2 linked regions of the Homo sapiens genome follow. The protein of the gene in region 1 purifies or fractionates together with the protein of each later gene. This does not show direct contact. Each region holds a gene or a part of one and is shown on either strand. Other genes may lie near its edges.

Region 1 (3,500 bases):
AAGCAATTGGTAGATAAGTAGATGGATGTGTGGGTGGATGGATGAACAGATGGATAGAGAGAAAGCTAGGTGAGTGGATGGATGGATGCATGGATAGGTGAATAAGTGGATGAATGAATGGATGGATAAGTGGGTGGATGGATGGATGGATGGATGGATGGGTGAGTTGGGTGGGTAGATGGTTGGATGGGTGAGTGGATGGATGGATGGATGGATGGATGGATGGATAGGTGAGTTGGATGGGTGGATGGTTGGATGGGTGAGTGGATGGATGGATGGATGGATGGATGGATGGATGGATGGATGGATGGGTGTGTGGGTGGATGGGCAGATAAATGGATGGATAGATGGGTGGGTGCATAGATGATGAGTGGGTGAATGAGATGGATGGATAGATGAGATGGAAGGGTGGATGGATTGGCAGATGGATGGATAGATGAAGGATGGATGGATGGGTGGGTGGATAGGTAGATGGATGAATGGATGGGTGGATGGATTGGCAGCTGGATGGATGGATGGATGTGTGGATGGATGGATGGATGGATGGGTGGGTGGGTGGGTGGGTGTGTTGGTGGATGGGTAGATAAATGGATGGATGGGTGGATGGGATGGATGGATGGATGAATGGATGGGTGAATGGATTGGCAGATGGATGGACAGATGATGGATAGATGGATGGATAGGTGGATGGACTGATAGATGGATAGGATGGAAGGGTGGCTAGATGAATCGATGGGTGGATGGATGCATGGACAGATGGATGAGTGCACGGATGGATGGTAGTGGGTGGATGAGTGAGTGGGTGGGCAGATGAGTAGATGGATTAATGGGCTCATGAAAGTGTGGGTGGGCTGAAGAACAGACAGATGGGTAAGTGGGAGGGTGAGCAGGTAGACGGATGGACAGGGGATGAAGGATGGATAAGTGATTGTGGCTGGGTGGGTGGGTGGACAGGTGAACAGCAACAGCACCAGGTGTATCTGACTTCCAACTCAAGTCCCTCGTCAGGGCTGAGTGCTCCACGGCTGCTCCGTAGATGTCTTCAGCCTCAGGGCCTGATCATGGCTGGAAAGGAGGCCCTGGGGACCAGAAATGGAGGGCAGGACCCTCTCACCCCATGCAGGGATTCATGGATCCACCTCTGCCCCCTCACTTCGCATGATCAGAGCCTCTCAACTTCATGCCCCACTGCACCGGCCTCACCTTCTCCAGGTAGTTAAACTCCATCGCAATCTCCCGGAAGAAGAAGTAGACATGGCTGCCCCACTCCACCGCATGGACAAAGTAAGGCTCTGCAGGACAGGAGGGGTCAGAACTCAGCCCCTGACATGACAAAGGGGGTTTCTGGGGCTAAGAACTCACTGGCTTTTATGGTGAAGGGGGGACATAGGCTGGTTACCCAGACAATATGAAACAGACTCAAAGTTTGGTATTTTGCAGGGGAAGGGAGGTCAGAAGCCTAAAATCGCTGTGTCTCTTGCTGCAAATGGCAACATCAACTATTTTTTGTTATCTTCCTCCCTCATGTGTTGAAGAGCTGAGTCCTGCTATATCTTTTCTGTGGTTCCATTTTGGGCTTCTAAGCCACCCACTTCCAGCGGGTTCTACTTTAGATCCAACTAAACTTGTTCCTCTAGCTTTCTAGTCTTCAAAAAGGCCAACAGATTCCAAAGATGTGGTGGAAATCTCTCCACCAAGCTCCTCTGGGACTCTTATTCTGGTGGGGAGATTTGATGAATGTCAGGTTCTGGGCCCTGCCAGGTCTGGGCCCACTGCCCTTCCTGGTCTCACCTTTGAACCACTTGGAGTCATGTTTCACGGTGCGCAGGGTGGGCCTGTCCCCGAGGCTGCGGTAGATGACAGCATCAATGGCTAGGAAGTCGGTAACAGTAGCTGTGAAGAGCATCCCGTCTGGATGGGGTGGGTGGGGAAGGCAGGCAAGAGATGAGACCGCAGAGGCCAGGGGCTGGGTGGGTCGAAACTCGATTTTCTGAGACTGAGTCCTGAGCCTAGGGGAGCCCCTGTCTCCAGGCTGAGCCCTGATCCCATCCAAGCCCCACCTCCATCCAAGCCCTGACCTTAACTGAGCCCCTGACCCCGGCTAAGCCCCAAATCCCGCTGAGCCTCAATCCCAGCTGAGCCCCAAACCTGGGCTGAGAGTCTGCCCATGTCACAGCTGGGACAAGTGGTCGTCCAGCTGCCTTCTAAACAACCCAGACGCTGGAGTAGAAAATGCCAGGTCTTGCCTGTGGCTGGGGCTGATCAGATGGAGGTTGGGGGGGTACTTACCAGAGAAGAGGGCAACATTGGCGTGCTTGGGGTCGTACGGGCAGCGGGCCATACCGCTGATGTTGTCTCCGACGGGCTGCAGGGTGTCTATCTGCAGGGACCATGGGGCCTGAGTGACAGATCTCCTGACCCCACCTAGCAGCCCCTGGCTCCCTCAGCCCCCCACTCCAGGGGGAATCCTGATCCACCACGGATTACTGTGTGACCTTGGCCACTCACTTAACCTCTCAGGGCCTCAGTTTACTGATCTGTAAATGGGTTTAAGAGTCAATGCCTAGTTAGACCTGTAACTGGCTCATTACCTAAGTAGCTACGGCTTCCCCGGCCCCCTGTACAGGCCTCGTTTGGACAGCGCTGACTCCTCTTGAGCTCAGGGGGAGGAGGCAGGGAGAGTATATCCAGGAAGGCTTCCTGGAGGAGGTGACACGGCCTGGGGAAAAGCCATGGCCAGCGGAGGTCGGGCGAGCAGAGGCCTGGAGGTTGGACCTGGGGCGCAGGGAGTCTGAAGACTCACGCTGTAGTTGGCGCACACCGGGTTGAAGGCGTTGGAACCGCACACAAAGAGCGTGGACTCGTCCCGAAGGAGCAGCACCTTTACGAAGTTTCGACACTCGCCCTGAGGTGGGGACAGGAGGAAGCGGGGAGCGCGATGTGGGCGTGGTCATGGTGATGGGCGTGGCCAGAACCTGAGTTGTGTGGGTGGAGGGCCGGTCTGTTGTGGGCATGGCCAAGGCAGGGGCTGAACCTAGGACTGGCTGGGGACACGGTGCGACCCAGACAGGGAAACACTTTGTATCAGCAACGCAGGCAAGGCCAGGATGGTGGGCATTGTCAGACTGTGGGCATAACCATGGCAATAGCAGAGTCCTAACCTGGGATGGAGGAGAAGGATCCGCCCTGGGTGTGGTCACGGCCGATTGGGGTGGGGCATGGTCGTGACCAGAACTAACTGGGGCGTGGTGGGCACGGTTATAGCTGATTGGGGCCAAGTTGGGAGCGTGGCCAGAGCTGGTGGGGTGGGCGTGGCCTGGGCTTATTGGGGCGGGCCGGGGGCGTGGGGGGCGGCAGGACTGATAGGGGAGGGGTCGGGATGGGGACCTGATCGATTGGGTGGGGAGTGAGCTATTGGGTGGCGTGTGAACATGGCCTGGGCTTGTTGGAACGAGGCTGGGGGTGGTGGTAGGACTGACAGGGGCAGAAGTGTGGGCATA
Region 2 (3,500 bases), on another chromosome or scaffold:
TAAAGCAGCCAGGTGAAGGCAAAATCACCTTCAAAGGAACAACAAAGGACCAGATAGCGACTTTTCAACAGAAATGGTATAAGCCAGAAAACAAAGAATTACATCTTTAAAGTCCTTAAACAGACTCCTGTATGCACTTGATAGAAGACAGAATTAGTGAACTTTGTACAAAACAGCTATAAAGTTCTCCCCAAATATAGCATATATATAAAAATATGAAAGACAGATTAAGAGATAATATCATGATATGATCCAACTTACATTTAATCAGTTACAGAAGAAACAGACAATGCTGAAAGAAAAAATCATTTAATTTTCCACAATTGATTAAGGATACCATTGTACAAATTCAAGAATCCAAAAAAGTCTCAAACAGGAAAAGAAAAAACCTACAAACAAACCACCTAGTGTGCCAGTCACGTTTCTATTCTCAGCTGCAAGCTCATCCTTGTAGTCTCTACTGTTCTACTGTAGCTGCCACTCTGTAAACTACATTTCCCAGATTCCCTTATCAGCTGGCTTCCTGTTAGGGTCTACCAATGGAAGCCACTAGAGGGAGATTAGACGGCAGTAGATAGCAATTGCCCTAGACCCAGTGGTTTTTTGCATGAGACAATTTTATATATTAAGCCCCTGAGATTTAAGGATTATTACTACAGAAAAAGCCCATCCTATCCTAATAAAATATGCAAAAAATTAAAAGTAGAACTTTACACTTCATACCACGTATAAAGATAAACCTAAATGACAAAGACTATATAGCTTTCAGAAGAGAACACAGGAAACATCCTCATGATCTTGGGGTATAGAAGGATTTCTCAAATAAGACATAAAAAACATAAATCAAAAAGAAAAAGCTTGATAGATTTGACATAAAAATTAAAAGCTCCTGTTTATCAAAAGACAGAACTAAAATAGTGAAAAGACAAGCCACAGAAGATATTTGCAAAATATATAACAAAGAACTTGTGTACATATTTTAAAATTTGTATGAATAAGAACACTTGAAGAAACCTAATAACTAATAAACATGAAAAGTTGTTCAACATTATCAGTAATGTTCAAATAGACACTATACATGTACTGTCTTAGGTAGAGCTGCTATAATAAAATACCATACATTGAATTAAAAACATTTATTTCTCATGGTTATGGGAACTGGAAAGTCCGAGATCAAGATGCTAGTAGGTTTGTTTCTGGTAAGGGCCCCCTGGTTCATAGACAGGCATCTTCTTGCTGTGTGTTCGCATGGCAGAAAGAGGGCTGGGATCTCTTCATAAGGGCACTAATCCCACTCACGTGGGCTCCATGCTTACGACCTCCCAAGGGCTCCGCATCCTAATATCATCACATTGGGGGTTAAGATTTCAACATATGGGCCGGGCGCGGTGGCTCACGCCTGTAATCCCAGCACTTTGGGAGGCCGAGGCGGGCGGATCACGAGGTCAGGAGATCGAGACCATCCCGGCTAAAACGGTGAAACCCCGTCTCTACTAAAAATACAAAAAATTAGCCGGGCGTAGTGGCGGGCGCCTGTAGTCCCAGCTACTTGGGAGGCTGAGGCAGGAGAATGGCGTGAACCCGGGAGGCGGAGCTTGCAGTGAGCCGAGATCCCGCCACTGCACTCCAGCCTGGGCGACAGAGCGAGACTCCGTCTCAAAAAAAAAAAAAAAAAAAAAGATTTCAACATATGAATCTGGTGGGGGGACACAAACATTTAGTCCGTAACATGTACCAAGCTAGCTAAAATTCAAAAGTATGAAAATACTAAATACTGGAAAAGATTGGGGTAATAACTCTCATTTACTCCTGGTGAGAATGTGTATAACCACCTTGGAATACATTATTTAGTAAAGTTGGAACACCATTAAGACTCCACATTTCCACTCCTAGATATATATCCTACAGAAATATGTGTTTATATGTGCACCAGGAATCATGTATAAAAATGTTTATCACAGCATTATTCACAATATACAAAGACTGAAATCAATTCCAGTGTTTATCAGCAGCATGCTGCCTGTATTATGGTACAGTCCTACAATAAGCATTAACAAAACTGAATGTACTATAAAGATTAAAACAAATTACAGCTACACAAGCAACACGGATGAATCTTAAAACAATGTTGAACAAAAGAAGCCACATACCCAAAAATATTTACTCTCATTCTATTAGTAAAAGTTCAAAATCAGGGAAAACAGAATAACTACTTATTTAGGGATCTAATCATAGATGGTAAAACTATAAAGACAAGCAAAGGAATGAGTACCACACATCATGAGACAATGATTTATCTCCAAAGTGCTGGGGGCAGTGAAGGAGATGTGATCTAGGAGGGGTTCCCAAGGGGCTCCTGAGGTACTGACTTGAAAACGTTCTCTTTTCTAACTTGGTGTTGACACAGGTGCTCCTGCTCACCTTCATATTTTTTTAAGTATACATCTGTGTATCATGAACAATTCTTATCTCAAAATTTAAAAATGAAGTACACATTATAACAGCATTACAATCATGAACACATGTGCTATGTTCTCTGGGAGACAAAGAGAAACTATTTACCCTACTTTCCAGAAAAGGACACTGACACTTAGAGGGAACACAAGTGTTGAAACCAGGTCTGAAATCCAAGACCCAAGATGCTTTTTTGCTGCTAAAGCATTCATTATCCAGACTCTGCCTGCATGAAGGTGATGCATAGGAAATGATGAACCTGGTAAAAGCTTCCAGTCTTAAAAATACTCCAAGTAAGGCTCTTTAAGGCTTCTGGTAGGGACATTTTATTTTTTGGTAAAGCCACAATAGATAGAAATGCCATAAAAACAAACATGTAAACAAGGTATCAGAACTTTGGTTCACTGAAACATCTCACACCTAAAACACCTGAGGTACAAAGGCACCTTGCTAGGCGCTAGACAGCTAACTCTGCTGCAGCCACTTTGATCCTAGCCTTGGGGCCAGGGATGGCACAGGCTGAATGGAAGGGCTGGGACTTCAGTCACACAGGAGTCGCCCTAGTATGGTCTCCCTCTGCTCCAGACAAACATTCATTTCTCCAAAAATCAGCCTGATAGGAACATACAAAGGAACATACAAAGGTGTCTGTCACGTTGACATGGGCTGAAGGACCAGGAAGGGGAAGGACAGAAAAGGATGTCAGTCAACTTCTGTTGATCCACAAGGTCTCAAGAACTCCTGTCCTCGTTCATGGAACCACTTATTGGAGACTGTGAAAAGAAAGCAAGCATGTTACAATCCTATTGGTCAGTTTAGTAGCCTGAATGAATGACTCCTTCATGATGACCCCCTGCACTGTGCCCTGGAATCAGACACAAATAAGACAAGACATGATCTCAGGCCTCAATTTGCTGAAGAATTGGTAAGGAAGACACATGTAAACAGATAATTGTATGAAATTCTGCCAGTGGGACAAGATACATGTGTGCAGGTTGCCATGGGAATAGCACCCAAGGGCATCTAATCATGCCCTTTCATGCCCA

What was found. Proteins that work in one complex are often made in the same cells at the same time.
Region 2: the proteins of SEMA6B (region 1) and P4HA2 purify together in Homo sapiens (co-immunoprecipitation; one large-scale study listed by IntAct). This does not show direct contact.

The regions. Positions count from the first base shown.
Region 1 is NC_000019.10:4,553,185-4,556,684, forward strand, and holds part of SEMA6B (semaphorin-6B precursor), read right to left. Parts: intron 2,906-3,500; coding exon 2,804-2,905; intron 2,381-2,803; coding exon 2,290-2,380; intron 1,912-2,289; coding exon 1,792-1,911; intron 1,293-1,791; coding exon 1,204-1,292; intron 1-1,203. UniProt on the Homo sapiens protein: Functions as a cell surface repellent for mossy fibers of developing neurons in the hippocampus where it plays a role in axon guidance.
Region 2 is NC_000005.10:132,189,854-132,193,353, forward strand, and holds the end of P4HA2 (prolyl 4-hydroxylase subunit alpha-2 isoform 2 precursor), read right to left. Parts: intron 3,228-3,500; coding exon 3,157-3,227; 3' UTR 294-3,156; downstream 1-293. UniProt on the Homo sapiens protein: Catalyzes the post-translational formation of 4-hydroxyproline in -Xaa-Pro-Gly- sequences in collagens and other proteins.